4 linked regions of the Homo sapiens genome follow. The protein of the gene in region 1 interacts with the protein of each later gene in a pairwise test. Each region holds a gene or a part of one and is shown in the gene's direction. Other genes may lie near its edges. The genes, in order: SEPHS1, IGSF21, GBP2 and DEPDC7.

Region 1 (3,669 bases):
CCAGGCTGGAGTGCAATGGCGCGATCTCAGCTCACTGCAACCTCCCCCTCCCCGGTTCAAGCGATTCTCTTGCCTCAGCCCGAGTAGCTGGGATTACAGGGCTGTGCCATCATGCCCAGCTAATTTAGAGACGAGGTTTTACCATGTTGGCCAGGCTGGTCTTGAACTACCTCCTGACCTCAGGTGATCCACCCGCCTCGGCCTCCCAAAGTGCTGGGATTACACGTGTGACCCACCATGCCCAGCCACAAGGTTTTTACATTTTGTAGAAGTAGACTACAGTTTTTCCTCATCATCTTATTTCTACTTAGAGAAATAAATTTTGGCCCGGTGCAGTGGCTCACGCCTGTAATCCCAGCACTTTGGGAGGCCAAGGCGGGTGGATCACGAGGTCAGGAGATCGAGACCATCCTGGCTAACACGGTGAAACCCTGTCTCTACTAAAAATACAAAAAATTAGCCGGGTGTGGTGGCGGGCGCCTGTAGTCCCAGCTACTCAGGAGGCTGAGGCAGGAGAATGGTGTGAACCCGGGAGGTGGAGCTTGCAGTGAGCCGAGATCACACCACTGCAATCCAACCTGGGAGACAGCGAGACTCCGTCTCAAAAAAAAAAAAAATTTATGGCCTATTTACTGGAAAGAGCAACAAAGGTTTATTTTAATGTATTTTATACTGTTTGTCTTTTGGATATAATGACAGAGTCATGACTGGAACCTAGATACTTTGGGGCATACACTGTTTCATGAGTCTTAAATTTTCTAAAAATACAAAAAAGCATTCTCGGTAAAATGAGAGAGTCGATGTAGAGAATCAAAAGTTCCCTTTTGTTTGTCAATATTTGTTTCAGTGTAGCTTGGAAAAAATAGCTACCACATGGGTTATTGAAGCCCCAAACACCTTACCCCTACACAGTGTTATGTGGTTCACGAATAGGTCATTTTCACAGTTGAAAGTTGGAGTGTATATGTGTGTGTGTTAGGAGTTTACTAGCAATTGCTTAATTACAGCATAGAACAGGCCTCTTAGGCTGGGAGTGGTGGTTCATTCCTGTAATCTCAGCACTTTGGGAGGCCAAGGCAGGTGGATTGCTTGAGTCCAGGAGTTTTAGACCAGCCTGGACAACACAGTGAAACCTTGTCTCTACAGAAAATTAGCCAGGTGTGGTGGTGCACACTTGTAATCACAGCTACTGGGAAAGCTGAAGTGGGAGGGTCACCTGAGCCAGGACATTGAGGCTGCAGTGAGCTGTGATTGTACCACTGCACTCCAGCTTGGGCCACAGAGTGAGACCCTGTCTCAAAAAAAAGCTGCTTAGTTGAATGGGAAGAGCTACTTGCATATAGGTGGCAGCAAGTTGTTGATGGAAGTTGGATCTCTGCAGAAGCAGCAGAGGCAGAGAAGCTGCTGTCATGTCAACACTAACAGTCATTCTTGTTTTCTTTTGCCAGGCGGCCTTCTGATCTGTTTACCACGTGAGCAAGCAGCTCGGTTCTGTGCAGAGATAAAGTCCCCCAAATATGGTGAAGGCCACCAAGCATGGATTATTGGGATTGTAGAGAAGGGCAACCGCACAGCCAGAATCATAGACAAACCCCGGATCATCGAGGTCGCACCACAAGTGGCCACTCAAAATGTGAATCCCACACCCGGGGCCACCTCTTAATCTAGACAGAAATAGCTGTTTGGTTTTGTTTTTAAATAGATCTATTTCCCTTATCACTTCAATTAAAGACTATAAACAACAAAAATCTCATTGTGTCTACACATCGGGGTGACCTTAGGTCGGTTTGTAAGTGGATACAATTAATAAAATAAAATCCATTGCCTTTTTTTCCTGTTACATTAACTGAAGATGCACCTAATCTTGAGGCAGCTTCTGAGTTGAGAATTATATTGTTATCCAATACTGTTGATTCATTTTGAATCTTTAGACACTTATCTCTTGCCGCATAGGCTTTTTAAAGGTGCTTTCACATAGCACAGGCATTACCCGTAGTCGTGTCAAATAGCAGTTGGTGTCTTCATTTTATGTATATTTATCATATAAGTCTGATTTTTTTTTTTAAGCGTCTTGAATGGTTTTCTGGAGAGACAGCATTGGTAAGTGGCACATGACGGTATCCCAGTCATAAGAGGGTTGCATGATTCCTTTGAGTGTTTGATTTGAAAAGCCTAGTCTTGTCTCTCAAGAGCATCTCGGACCCAGAACATTCTCCAGTAGTGCATTCAGTTCAACACAGCAAGTGCTTCATTGCATGGAAAACACTTTGAAGACAAAAAAGAAATCTTATTTCTTTTTTTGTAGCCTTCCTGATATTTACAGTAATACCATTAACTGTTTTATCGATAGCAAAAAAGGATACTTTTTGCAATGTTATTAGATGTTCTATAGTGCTACAAGGAATTGCCTTCCGAATGGAGGTTCATGTATAATACTCATTTACAATTCAATATATAATTACACAAATAATTTTTAAATATAATCAATAGTAAAGACTGTTCTGTGGATGGTAGTGTTTAATACATTTTCTATTTTGTACAGTGATTTCAGGCCTTTTGTTTTCTTAAAATCAGCAGCTGTTTGGCCTAATTCTTAGCATTATTTTGTCCTTTGCGCCAGTACTTTTTTGTGCACGCTTTTTGTGATCTGTGTTAAAAACCTGCATTGCCAACATTGCAGCTCGAACTTAAACTTGTTATTCAAATAAATATTTAATTTTTTAAATTGCTCTTGTATAATCAGATGCCCCTTTTAGTATTATTTTAGAAGCGTTGGGAGGGTTTTGCCTAAAGTACAATTTATCGGGAAAAACTAGATTTTAGTTTTATAAAACTTTTAAGTCTTTCATGGGACCTATATTTTCTTGAATTAAATTTTGTAGTTCTAGAATAAATAGGCAATCTAAAAAGGTGTTCTCTGTGTTATGTAAAGTGGAGGCTTCCTTATATTTTAACCTACTAAGCAATGAGGAGGGATTCCTGTCATTAAGCACAAGGGCGCTGGATCCTCAAGTGCCCATCTTCGTGAGAGAAAAAGCAGCACATCCTGCCCATTTCTGGTGCTTTCTGCTCACAGGCACCAAAGCTGCACATGTAAACTGACTTCTTGCCAAAGGAAATGACCCCTGGGAAGTTCAAGCTCCTGGAAGAGGCTTTAACTCGGACGCGCCCTCCTCCAGGAACCAGTGGGCAGGGCAGCCTTCATGCATGTGTAACTGGACCTCCAGCCATAAGCATGGTGTGCAGTATGGAAGAGCCTGCTACGGAACTGAAAGTGATTGGACATTTTATAGGAATTGATAGAGATGTTGGTCCTCAAAAGCTACAAACCAGTGGTCTGCAAAATAAAGTGTGTTGGAAACCTCTAGTGAGATAAACCTACTGTTGAGCTTTTTTTTTTTTTTTTTTTTAAATAACGATGACTGAACTTCAGTGTAGCCTGTGCCGTGAGAGCTGGTGTTTTCCTCAGTGGCAGGCCTATTGAGAGGAGGGAGCTAAGTGGAGTATGTACTTAAGGAAATAATATTTGTGAAGATTGATATTTATAAAGAGAAAATGTTGGGTACTTAGAGGTCCGTGTAAGTCTTATGATCCCAAGAGGAAGAATTTGTATTTAAAGCAGTGTTGGCTGGGCATGGTGGCTCACACCTGTAATATCAGCACTGTGGG
Region 2 (3,669 bases), on another chromosome or scaffold:
GCCCCCGTGAACCGTGCCTGGGCACTTCTGGGAAGTCCTGCACTGGAGCCTGTGCAGTGGCGCCGGGCTGGGGATGGAGGAGTGGTCCTTAGCCGCTGTTCAGCCCTGGGAAACGTTCCGCTGAGAGCAGGGTGGGGGCAGCCCCAGTTAGGGGTAGCCCACGGCCCCAGCCGGGGGTCTCCGGGATTGCGCGGGCGGAGGTGGGCGGCCCTGCGGGTTCTCGGGTTCTCGGGTTCTCTGTCTCCGCAGCCGCGTGTCAGCAGGTGGATGGGATGGAGGGGCTGTCTCCGCTAGGCCGCCGCAACCGCAACGCCGAGACTGCGGGGGCTGTGCGCGCGCGAGCGGGTGTGACGACTTTATATATTTATCCTCCCTTCACACGCCCCCTTCCCACTGGGCGGGGCCTCTGGCGCGGCAGGGTTTCTTCTCCAGCCCCAACTGGGGGAGTTAAGGGCCCTAATCCCTTGCAGGCTGCCTCGCCCATGCCCCTCCAGCGTGGCCCCGCCCCTAGCCATAAACTCCACCCCTCTTCCACCCCATAACCGCTCTGCAAATGGGAGTTTTTCATTTTCGTGTTTTAAGTGCAGAGAATATTCGAGCTGGAGCGACCTCGGAGATCACTCACTTCGGTGGTTTTGAAACTTGTGTGTTTTTCTTTTTCTTTTAAGTAGGAAAACCCTTTTAGAGGAAACATTATCACCCTCCTAAAATCCCAATACCTTGAGCAAGATGATAGATCTTAAAGTAAAGCTGCCCTGGTGGATGCTGGGGATGAGGCCCACATCGAGCGCTCCTTCCACACAAGTCTTTCACAACCTCAAGACTGCTCCCTTCCTCCGCAGCTAGTATTGTAGCTGGGGTTTTGTTTTTCCAATAGCCCCGATTATATGGATCAGCTGCGATGTGTCAAGCAGGATGCTGGCTGCTGCTTCGCAGTCCTCATTCATGCTGCAAGATAGATTTAAGACCTTCTTTTCACAGATTAGGAAACTGAGGTTCTGAGGTTTAAGACTTGTTAATGACAGAAGTACAGGCTCCTTCCGCTCCCTCCTAGTTCTGCCCCAGGCTCCTCTTTCCGCTGAATCTTCCTTTCCTCTCTCTGGCCGCAAAGAATCCCTTGGGCAGGGCATGTGAGTAGAGAAGGACCCAGGTCATCTGAGTGATGCCTCAGATCTGCCTGCTACTCTGATATTTCAGAACGTCAGTCACAGACACACTTGAACTTCACTACACTCTGGCAAGATGGGCAGAGGACGGAGTAGGGGAAGGAGGTGGAGGAGCTTAGGGGACTTGCTTAGTTAGGTGCCTGGTTTATAGTGGTGTGTGACTTCAAAGGCAGAGACCGACAAAATAGAGGCTGTTTAGTTCTATTAACTGGGTTTCCTGGGATCTGTAGAGGTATTTAACCTAGGCAGTTGACAGCCTGGCTTACCACCTTGCCCGCCTCCGCTATAGCCCCAGGCCACCAGGAATTCATTTATTCATGCATCCAACAAATGCTTATTGTACACTATGTGCCAGACACGGTGCTGAGCATTGGGAAAACGGCCCTGAGCTTGGTAGAGGAGTCCCCTGCCTCTATGGTGTTTAAGGCTCAGTGGGAAATTGATGCTTCATTTAGAGGGAGGAAGGGGCTATTATCTCTCTCTGGCCCTAACTGAGCTAGGTGTCACGCCATGTGCTTTATCTTTCTTGTCTTACAGAATCCTTACAAGCACCCTGAGAAGTAAAATGAAGTCCATTTTGTAGATGAGGAAACTGAGGCTCAGAGAGGCTAGGTGACTTTGCCAAGGCTGCAGAGTCATTGAATGGCAAGCAGGAATTCAGATACAGGGCCCTCTGACTCCCTGGCCTGTGCTTCCTCCCTCCATGCTCTGCTGTCTCCTGGTGATCATTTCCTGAGCCCCAGCCACATGGATGTGTCCAGTCTCCTGTCTGGATGCCTGACTCCTTCCCAAACCCACACTGAAATAGAATCATCCAGGGTGTTCATCTGCACAGATGGGAGAGGGAGTGTCCCTGAAAGCTATTGCCATCACCAAGAGAATGAATAGGCATCTGCTGTGGGCAGGGCACATGTGAAAAGAGCAAGGCCTATGAGTGTGATCCTCATCCCAGGGCAGCGAGAGACTGGGCATGTTTCCGAAAAGATGAACGACAATCTATTTTGTCCATCCTCCCTCTCCACCTCCTTTCCTCCCCCATCCACTCCTGTTCCCTTCCTCTCTTTTTTCTTTTTGCCTTCTTTTTTCTTTTTAAATAAAAGGAGGTTCAGGATCTTTTGTAAGTGGAGGAACTGGGAGTTTCAAAACCAGGTCTGAAGCAATCCAGAGACAGCTGCTTTTTCATCACTGGAAAGGGAGTACAGCAGCCCTTACTACTTGTAGGAGGCTGCAAAGCTGTTCATTTCAAATGATAAATGTCAGTGGTGGTAAAACACATGAGATCACTTCCTAGGAGGTGTCCTTCTTTAGGATGAAATTCCAGGGAAGATTGGGGTGGTGAGATCCTGGAACCCACCTTTATGCTACAGTGAGCTCCAGGAGTGGAGGGGGCTCATGTTCACTAAGACCCCCGGCTAAGATTCCATGGATGGAGCAATAAAGGTAGTGTGTATGGGGCTGGAGATGCAGGCCCTGTTCAGTCACCTCTGCAGCCCAAAAGAGCAGGAGAGACAGGTCGTGGGCAGGGTGTGGCTTGGGGGTGGGGTTTTTCTGAGACCCAGACTTTAGTCCCCTCCCAGGAAAGGAATCTGGTGTTTGGTTTTTCCACCAGCCTTTGTTACATCTTCTGGCCACATACTAAATTTGCTTTGGGAAATCACACCAACCCCGCACCCCACCCCCACCCCACCCAACACATAAATTGCATGACATCTTGGTGGGTGAAACTACTGGGTAAGGCATCCCCAAGATGGGCCCTGGAATCTGAATATTGAGCGGAGTGTCACAAAGACTGAGAGACACTAGAATGTCCCCCTTGCCCCTGGGACCCCCAGGAAACCGTCCTTTGTTGGTTTCCTGAGACTGATAATGATGGGACCTATCTCCCAGTGTACTGAGAGGGTGGAATCAGGCATTACAAGCAGAGCTCTTAGCTCAGTCCCGTGGGCTCTGATGCTTGTTACTAGTGTTAACCATGGTAACGATGAGTACCCGCTGAAGCAGCCCCAGTCCTTGCGTTACTCGACTTTTTCGTAGTGTTCTCATTGGTTACATTTTTTGGCTTGAGAGTCTAGTGTCAATTTCTGCTGCTTGCAAGGAAAGGATCCCATGTGATAACCTCTCTAGGTGTGATGACCAGTGCCAGCCTTGGAGTTGCCAGTCAGTGCACTCTTGGTAATGCACAGAGGATGGTTCATGGCCCTCTGGCTGGGGGTGACCAATCCCACCGCCTGCCCTCTGTCTTTCCCTGGAGTCTTGAGGCCCATTGAGTGCAGTGTGAGACTCAAGTTGTTCCCCGCTAGTAAAATGTACAGATGGAGGCCAATCTTATAGTGAACTTCCAATCCCCTGACCCACTAGACCCTGCTCCACCCAGGCAGGGACCCCATCTGGTTCTGTTCACTGTTGAGTCCTCCACAAAACACATAGCAGGTGCTCAGTCAGGTTGTTTGTTTGGGTGATTAGGCTACCTCTGGCCTTGCGACATGTGCAACCTGGTTTTGAA
Region 3 (3,669 bases), on another chromosome or scaffold:
AGCATCATCAGATTGTTGCATGGCTTTACTTCAGGATATATTTGGCCCTTTAGAAGAAGATGTCAAGCAGGGAACATTTTCTAAACCAGGAGGTTACCGTCTCTTTACTCAGAAGCTGCAGGAGCTGAAGAATAAGTACTACCAGGTGCCAAGGAAGGGGATACAGGTAAACTACACGGTGGGTACCATTTCTTGGGACTCGCTGAGGGGATGCTTTTAAAGCCCACTGGGAAGAAGGTAAATGGCACTGCAACTGGTGCCTAGGGCCTCTGCCTTTCATTTTTCCATTTACTGATTCATTCAATAAGAGAGCCCACCATAACAGGAATTCCTCCTCAGAAGCACAGATGTAGCCCTCAAAAAGAGGTTTATCGAATTGACTCATTTATTTATTCATCTAGTCATTCAACAATTATTTATTTTGACCTAACTGTATACCAGGAACTTGTCAAGTTGCTGGGGATACGGCAGTTAAAAAAAAAAGTTCAAGCTCTGTCAAAGTACACACAGGCAATTAGCAAATGATAGCTTATGAACAAATAATAATAACAGTTAACATTTATGTTGCACTTACTGTGTTCCAGGAACTGGGCTGAGAGCGTTATTCATTTAATACTCAGAGCAATTCTATAAAATATGTATTACTAATATCCGAAATTTGTAATTTTTTTATTTTTTTACTTTTGTGGGTACATATGGTACATAGTAGGTGTATATACTTATGGGGTACATGAGATGTTTTGATATAAGTATGAAATGCACAATAATCACATCATTGAAAATGGGGTATTTGTCGACTCAGGTATTTATCCTTTGTGTTACAAACAATCCAATTACACTTTTTTAGTTATCTTAAAGTGTACAATTAAATTATTATTGACTATAGTCACCCTTTTGTGCCATCAAGTTTTATGCTCTCAAGTATGTTGTGCTATACTTGATTTTATTCATTCTTTCTAGTTGTTTTTACCCATTAACCATCCCCACCTCCCTCCCCCCACCACCCCATTACCCCCTCAGCCTCTGACAACCATCCTTCTACTCTCTATCTTCATGAATTCAATTGTTTTGATTTTCAAATCCCACAAATAAGTGAGAACATGCAATGGTTTTCTTTCTGTGCCTGGCTTATTTCATTTAGCATGATGACCTCAAGTTCCACGTTCTTGCAAATAACAGATCTTATTTTTGTTTATCAGTTCTAATAGTTTTTTTGGTGTGGAATCTTTAGATTTTTCCAAATATAAGATCATACCATCTGCAATAAAGGAGAGTTTGTCTTCTTCATTTCCAACTTGGATGCCCTTTATTTCTTTCTCTTTACTGATTGCTCTCGCTAGTATTTCCAATAGTATGGCAAATAACAGTGGTAAATGTAGGCATATTTGTTGTATTCCAGATGTCAGAGGAAAGTATTTTTGTTGTTCTTCCCATTCAGTATGATAATAGCTGTGAGTCTGTCATACATGGATTTTATTATGTTGGGGTATGTTCCACCTATACCCAGTTTTTTTAATGTTTTATTAATGAAGGGATATTGAATTTTATCAAATGTTTTTTCAGCTTGAATTGAAATGATCATATGGTTTTTGTCCATTCTGTTGATAGAATTTATCACATTGATTGATTTGCATATGTTGAGCCGTCCTTGCATCCCAGGGATGAATCCCACTTGGTCATGATGAGTGATCCTTTTAATGTATTGTTGAATTTGGTTTGCTAGTACTTTATTGAGGACTTTTGCATCAATTTTCATTAGAGATATTGTAGAGTTTTTAAAATTATTTCATTTCATATAGGTTTTGGGGGGAGCAGGTGGTGTTTGGTTACATGAATAAGTTCTTTAGTGGTGATTTCTGAGATTTTGGTGTACACTGTACCCAGTGTGTAGTCTTTTATCCCTTGCCCCCTCTCCTTTCCCACAAGTCCTCAAAGTCCACTGTATCATTCTTATGCCTTTGTGGCCTCATATAATAGCTTATCTCCAATTTATGTGTGAGAACATAGGATGTTTGGTTTTCCATTCCTGAGTTACTTCACTTAGAATAATAGTCTGCAGTTCCATCCAGGTTGCTATGGATGCCATTGTCTTTTTCCTTTTTATGGCTGAGTAGTATTCCATGGTGTGTGTGGGGGGGTATTATATGTTTTACATATATATGAAACAATTTTTTATCCACTCATTAATTGATGGGCATTTGGGCTCATTCCATATTTTTACAATTGCGAATTGTGCTGCTATAAACATGCGTATGCAAGTATCTTTTTTGTGTAATGACTTATTTTCCTCTGGGTAGATACCCAGTGGTGGGATTGCTGGATCTAACCCACAATCACTCTTTCTTCATTCTACCTTTCTCTGTATAACCAGGCCAAAGAGGTGCTGAAAAAATATTTGGAGTCCAAGGAGGATGTGGCTGATGCACTTCTACAGACTGATCAGTCACTCTCAGAAAAGGAAAAAGCGATTGAAGGTGAGAACAGCTGAAAACACTCTACATGGTCGGAAAGCTCTCAAAATGTTAGTTAGCAATATTGGTCCACCTGGAATTATTATTGTAGAGAAAGAATGGCAAGTATCATTCATAGTTCTATGAGAGTTTTCTTAACTAATCTGTATGATCATTGGTTTTCTGGTTACCCAAGGCAAAATTACAAGAAGTTTTCTCAATGATGTAAGGATAAGACAAACAAAAACGAGGGAAAGGAAAAGGGAACACCTACAATTGAATATTCATATCTTTTTCTGCTTATTTTTCTTCCACAGTGGAACGTATAAAGGCTGAATCTGCAGAAGCTGCAAAGAAAATGTTGGAGGAAATACAAAAGAAGAATGAGGAGATGATGGAACAGAAAGAGAAGAGTTATCAGGAACATGTGAAACAATTGACTGAGAAGATGGAGAGGGACAGGGCCCAGTTAATGGCAGAGCAAGAGAAGACCCTCGCTCTTAAACTTCAGGTATTCAATTGCATCATCTCAATTTTCTCTTCCAGTGCCCCATATCGAAAATGAAGTATAAGGTTGAGAACCTAATGCCTCCCAAAAAAACTTTCTAGCCCAGACACTACTACATTTTTCCTTCCCTAACTATTTTTATGCCAGTCATCTCTGGTTAGTAAAGACTGTTTACTTGCAGGATACAATCACATGGAATTCTTTATTATGCTATCACTAATAAACATTGCTAGGCACTGCACAAGTATTTTACATTATGTGATCAAATTTTCCTTTAATGGTAGAGGAACTATTAGTTTCTCATTTGCTAAATGAAGTAATTATAATCTCATGAGCAGTAAGTAACTTTTCTGCATCAGACTACCTAGAGAAATATCTAGCCAGTCTTTCCTACTGAGAGGGATCCATGGGGATTTTGTTTCTGTTATGCCTGCTAAGACTTTATGTCTGGAAGCACTGTTATGAGTAGAAAGATTCCCTAACCAGGCCAGGTGCAGTGGCTCACACCTGTAATCCTAGCACTTTGGGAGGCCGACGGGGGCGGATCACCTCAGGTCGGGAGTTCAAGACCAGCCTGACCAACATGGAGAAACCCCGTCTCTATCAAAAATACAAAATTAGCTGGGCATAGTGACGCATGCCTGTAATCCCAGCTATGCAGGAGGCTGAGGCAGGAGAATCGCTTGAACCTGGGAGGCGGGGGTTGCAGTG
Region 4 (4,214 bases), on another chromosome or scaffold:
CCACCCACAAACCCAAGTCCCCAGGGGCAGCTTCTTAGTATGTATTCTCTGAAACAATCCCATGTAGAAGCTCTTTCCAATAAGCTAAATAATGAACTCCCACTTAAACACCATTCTAATTTACACCTAAATCACACAAGCATCCTCCTTCTAAGAAGACGTCATAATCGTTTTGAAAATCATTGCAAAATTCCCAAACTTGAAAAAAAAGAAAAAAAAAAGGGCAAGTGTCTGGCAATTGGATTATTGGTCTCTAAGACCACTCATCCTTTCAGAGGTATCCAGCATTGGATCCCTGGCCTGGCTTCAACTTCCAAGTAACTAAGATGTGTCCCATTAATAGCCCTTCCTCCTTTTCTCTCCTCACCTTCACTCCAACCGGCAGCAAACTGTCCCTACCCACCCGACCCACAGTTCCTTTGGAGGCAGCACAGATTTCCTGGCAGCCAGTCCCAGGGTCTTTCGTTGCTGCCCTCCTGTGACCTCTAGACATTGCTCTCCTGGGCCACATAGGATTTGTTTGTTCTGCACAGGTAGGGATGTCTGAAAAACTCGATTATTATTGTTATTATCACTATTACTACTACTACTATGACATAATTTTAAGCACTTACGTTCCGGACGCAGTTACTAAATGCTGAACCTGAATTGGTTCCTATAAACCTCGTTAAAAAACAAACAAACATCTCAGTGAAGCAGGTACTAAACCTACCCCCGCATCACAGGTGAGGACACCGACGCACAGAGCAGTTAGGCAGCTTGCCAGGTTCCCGACTTTTTCTATTTCTTTTTTTTTTTTTTTTTTTTTTGAGACGGAGTCTCGCTGTGTCGCCCAGGCTGGAGTGCAGTGGTGGATCTCGGCTCACTGCAACCTCCGCCTCCTGAGTTCAAGCGATTCTTGTGCCTCGGCCTCCCGAGTAGCTGGGATTACAGGCGCCTGTCACCAAGCCCAGCTAATTTTTGTATTTTTAGTAGAGAAGGGGTTTCGCCATGTAGGCCAGGCTGCTCTCGAACTCCTGACCTCAGGTGCTCTACCTGCCCTGGCCTCCCAAAGTGCTGGGATTACAGGCGTGAGCCACCGCGCCCGGCCTGGTCCCGAGTTAATCTACGGCAGGCCGCGGTTCGAATCCCGCTGGTGTGAGCCGCGGGCCGCGTAGTGCCGGCCCAGGGAACCGCTTTGTCCCCGACCACCGCTCGCGTGGCATCGCGCCCGAGGAAACTTGGATCGCTGGCGCCGCGGGCTACGTTCAGTGGTTGCCAGAGAGACACGTGACCGGCAGCGGGGGCGGGGCCTGCAGGGAGCCACGCCCCGCACAGTTAACAGACGGGCGCTCAGGGAGCTAGGGAGCTGTGAAGCTGCTGGAGGAGTTGGCGTCCGGGGAGCAAGGGCCATGGCCACCGTGCAGGAGAAGGCTGCTGCGCTGAACCTCTCGGCTCTCCACAGCCCCGCGCACAGGCCTCCGGGTAGGTGCCGAGGACTGCCGCCTGGGATGGCGCGGGGCGGGCTGGGGTGCGCGGGCTGGGTCCCGGCGCGGGGCGGGCGGCGTGGGGCGTTCGGCCGCCTGCGCCTGTCAACGGCCGGCTGGGCGAGCACAGCACAGCTGCGACCACTTGGCCAACGCCCCCGCCGAGCGGGCGGATCGAGTTCCTCTCTGGCTGGTGGGCTGCAAGCGGCAGAGCCCGCCCGCACAGCCCAGCTTTTTTCTTTCTACCCAGACTCTCAACTTGACCGCGCGTTGGTCTGTGCGCCCGCTAACGTGCCAGGCACGCGCCGGGGAGCTCCGGGATATGCTCCGCGGTGCTACCGGTGACAAGTGTGGTATCTGGAATTTGTGTAGTTCTTTGCCCCCTGTCTCAACCACAAACCTTGACGACACAGTATGGCCAGGGGCCGAGCTCCTCCCTTGCCCACTTTGTTCTCCAGACTGCTAGGAGTCAAGAGTCAGCTTGTCTCCCCAGACTCTTCCTGGGAGGGATGAGAGGTTTATGTGAGTTCTACTGGCAGGAATTTGGCATAAAAGGTATTTATTAACACTTTATGTATAAGCAGTATTTTAGTGAATAGAAGTTTTTGGCTAAAAAAACAGTTACATGAAATTAGGAGGGAAGTTGGCAAATTCTGCCACGGGCCTAATCGTGTCTTTTGGGGGCAGTTGATTTAGGATTCTGGTTTCTTTAAATGTTCAAACACATGAAGAGAATCGGATATCACTTCTAAAATGCTGGTTATAGCAGATCTACAACCCAGTTAATAGGGGTGACTCAGATAACTGTTAAGATACTCAGATAACCCTTGGCTTTTTTCTTTTGGTTAAGTTACAACTTTTTCCCCTTTCTGGAGCTCCAGTCTGGGATGTCGTAGGAATTAGTTCCCTTTCTGACAAAAGCCTTTCATTTGTAAAAACACCAACCAGTGAAACTGTGATTCCTTCCTCTGGGTCAAATGGGTGCTTCTCAGTGGCCCCACTCTTGTGTTTGACTTACTCACTAATGCTCATTTTAATCTTCAAAATGCTAACGACAGATTATGGTAGAGAACCATTTTTCACTTGTCCTTTTCTAAGAAAAATCATAATATTGACCTTAGTCTGCTTCCATGTAAAGGATTCAGGTAAGCACATAGTGGCCACATTGAGAATGTCTCCTTGATTTATGTTGTGAAGAGAAGACAAATGCTAAGACATTTGGGAATTTAAAACCAAATGACATTGAAAACAGTCTTGAGAAATCTTTTGGGCCCACTTACTCAGTGAAGGAAATTCCCAAATGTCACCTGCTTAAAATAAAAACATGGTACCCTGTTTTCTCTAATAGCTGAAATACCAATTCTGGAGCTTTGGGCATTTGTGAACAGGTTCTTAGATGGTGTAAGGAAGTATGTATTCAGAAATTAAGTAGATAACTCTCTAAGGGAAGAGTTGAAGTGCTGGTTATCAGGAATCAAAGGAACACTGTCCTCGGCACACTAGCTGCAGTGGACGGAGAGGGGCCCGCTGTTGTTCTCACTCGTTTTGCTTGCTACCGCTGGAATCCCGACCTGGTAACATTTGTTAGCCTTTCTTTCACCCTTTAGTTGCCTTGTCATAGTTCCAGTGAGCAAGGTAGTGGGAGCACACGGTTATTGGTTCTTTGCCATTCTCTTTCTGTGTGCTCTGGCAGGCAGCTTTGTACTTTTGTTTCTCCACCGATTAGTAACTCTCACTTACCTTAAAGGGGCTGTAATGACCAGGGACCTGATTTATGTACAAGAAATGAGATCTATATGCCAGTCTTCAGCCAGTATGTCAAAAACACTTGTCTTTTAATACGACAAACAAGAAAGTAGTCTGTTATCCTGTTATCCCTTTATACTGTAACCTAATTCTTTGAGTTTGCCTGGTATCACTTTTCCAGGGAGCTCAAAGTACTTCCCATATGCTGTCTCATTAATGTATGTGAATTAAAGCAGAGACCAATGTCTGCTTTTGCTGATAATTCTCGTAGATATTGTAAATTTTTCTTGTTGGTAGACTTCTTTTACCTACCTGCAGCCTTCTTTTCAGAGGCAATCGCAGTCTTCAGCATGACGCCTCTAATGCCAACTAGCAGGAAAATAAACTTTGGACTACCAGAACCAATATCCAGTAAAAGTGTTGTAATCTTGGGATCATAGTATAGAAAATTTTTCCACTCAGTCACAACTGTCAAGTTTTAACACCATAAACACAATTCTCTTTACATTTATCTATTAATATTTTCATGAGGTTTTGGTTACTATCCAACAAATGTCCTTTTTCTTTGTTGTCTTGACAATTCTTTGTGTGAGTAATATTTTAAAACCTCTTTTGAAAAAATCTTTCTTAAAATTCTCTTAAATCCTAAATGGTCTAGGATTTATAGATGTGTTATTTTCTGATGAAAAGTTAAATCCTCTGGTATGTGTCACATCTTGTCTTCTCATCTCCTGTTGGCCTTTATGTGATTGAATACTATTCAGAACTTGACATTATCATCCAGGTAGTAGGAGTAAATAAAAGGTAAACTCCTAAGGTTGGGGACTGTGTCCTCTGAGTTCAGAGGAAGGAAGAGGAAGAAAGATACCTCCCTTTTCTTTCTACTTTTAAAATAAAATTTTAGATTCACTAAATAGTATGGTCCATTTGTCATAATTAATGAACCAATATTGATACATATAATTATTAACTGAAGTCCACACTTAGATTCCCTTGGTGTTT

The links.
Region 2: the proteins of SEPHS1 (region 1) and IGSF21 interact in a two-hybrid assay, tested with the Homo sapiens proteins (one large-scale study listed by BioGRID and IntAct).
Region 3: the proteins of SEPHS1 (region 1) and GBP2 interact in a two-hybrid assay, tested with the Homo sapiens proteins (one large-scale study listed by BioGRID and IntAct).
Region 4: the proteins of SEPHS1 (region 1) and DEPDC7 interact in a two-hybrid assay, tested with the Homo sapiens proteins (one large-scale study listed by BioGRID).

Annotation. Positions count from the first base shown.
Region 1 is NC_000010.11:13,317,136-13,320,804, reverse strand, and holds the end of SEPHS1 (selenide, water dikinase 1), read left to right. Parts: intron 1-1,448; coding exon 1,449-1,663; 3' UTR 1,664-3,377; downstream 3,378-3,669. UniProt on the Homo sapiens protein: Synthesizes selenophosphate from selenide and ATP.
Region 2 is NC_000001.11:18,110,766-18,114,434, forward strand, and holds part of IGSF21 (immunoglobulin superfamily member 21 precursor), read left to right. Parts: intron 1-3,669. UniProt on the Homo sapiens protein: Involved in synaptic inhibition in the brain. Selectively regulates inhibitory presynaptic differentiation through interacting with presynaptic NRXN2.
Region 3 is NC_000001.11:89,108,969-89,112,637, reverse strand, and holds part of GBP2 (guanylate-binding protein 2), read left to right. Parts: coding exon 1-166; intron 167-2,371; coding exon 2,372-2,474; intron 2,475-2,767; coding exon 2,768-2,961; intron 2,962-3,669.
Region 4 is NC_000011.10:33,014,565-33,018,778, forward strand, and holds the start of DEPDC7 (DEP domain-containing protein 7), read left to right. Parts: upstream 1-1,313; 5' UTR 1,314-1,391; coding exon 1,392-1,464; intron 1,465-1,552; exon of another isoform or gene 1,553-1,975; coding exon of another isoform or gene 1,976-2,021; intron 2,022-4,214.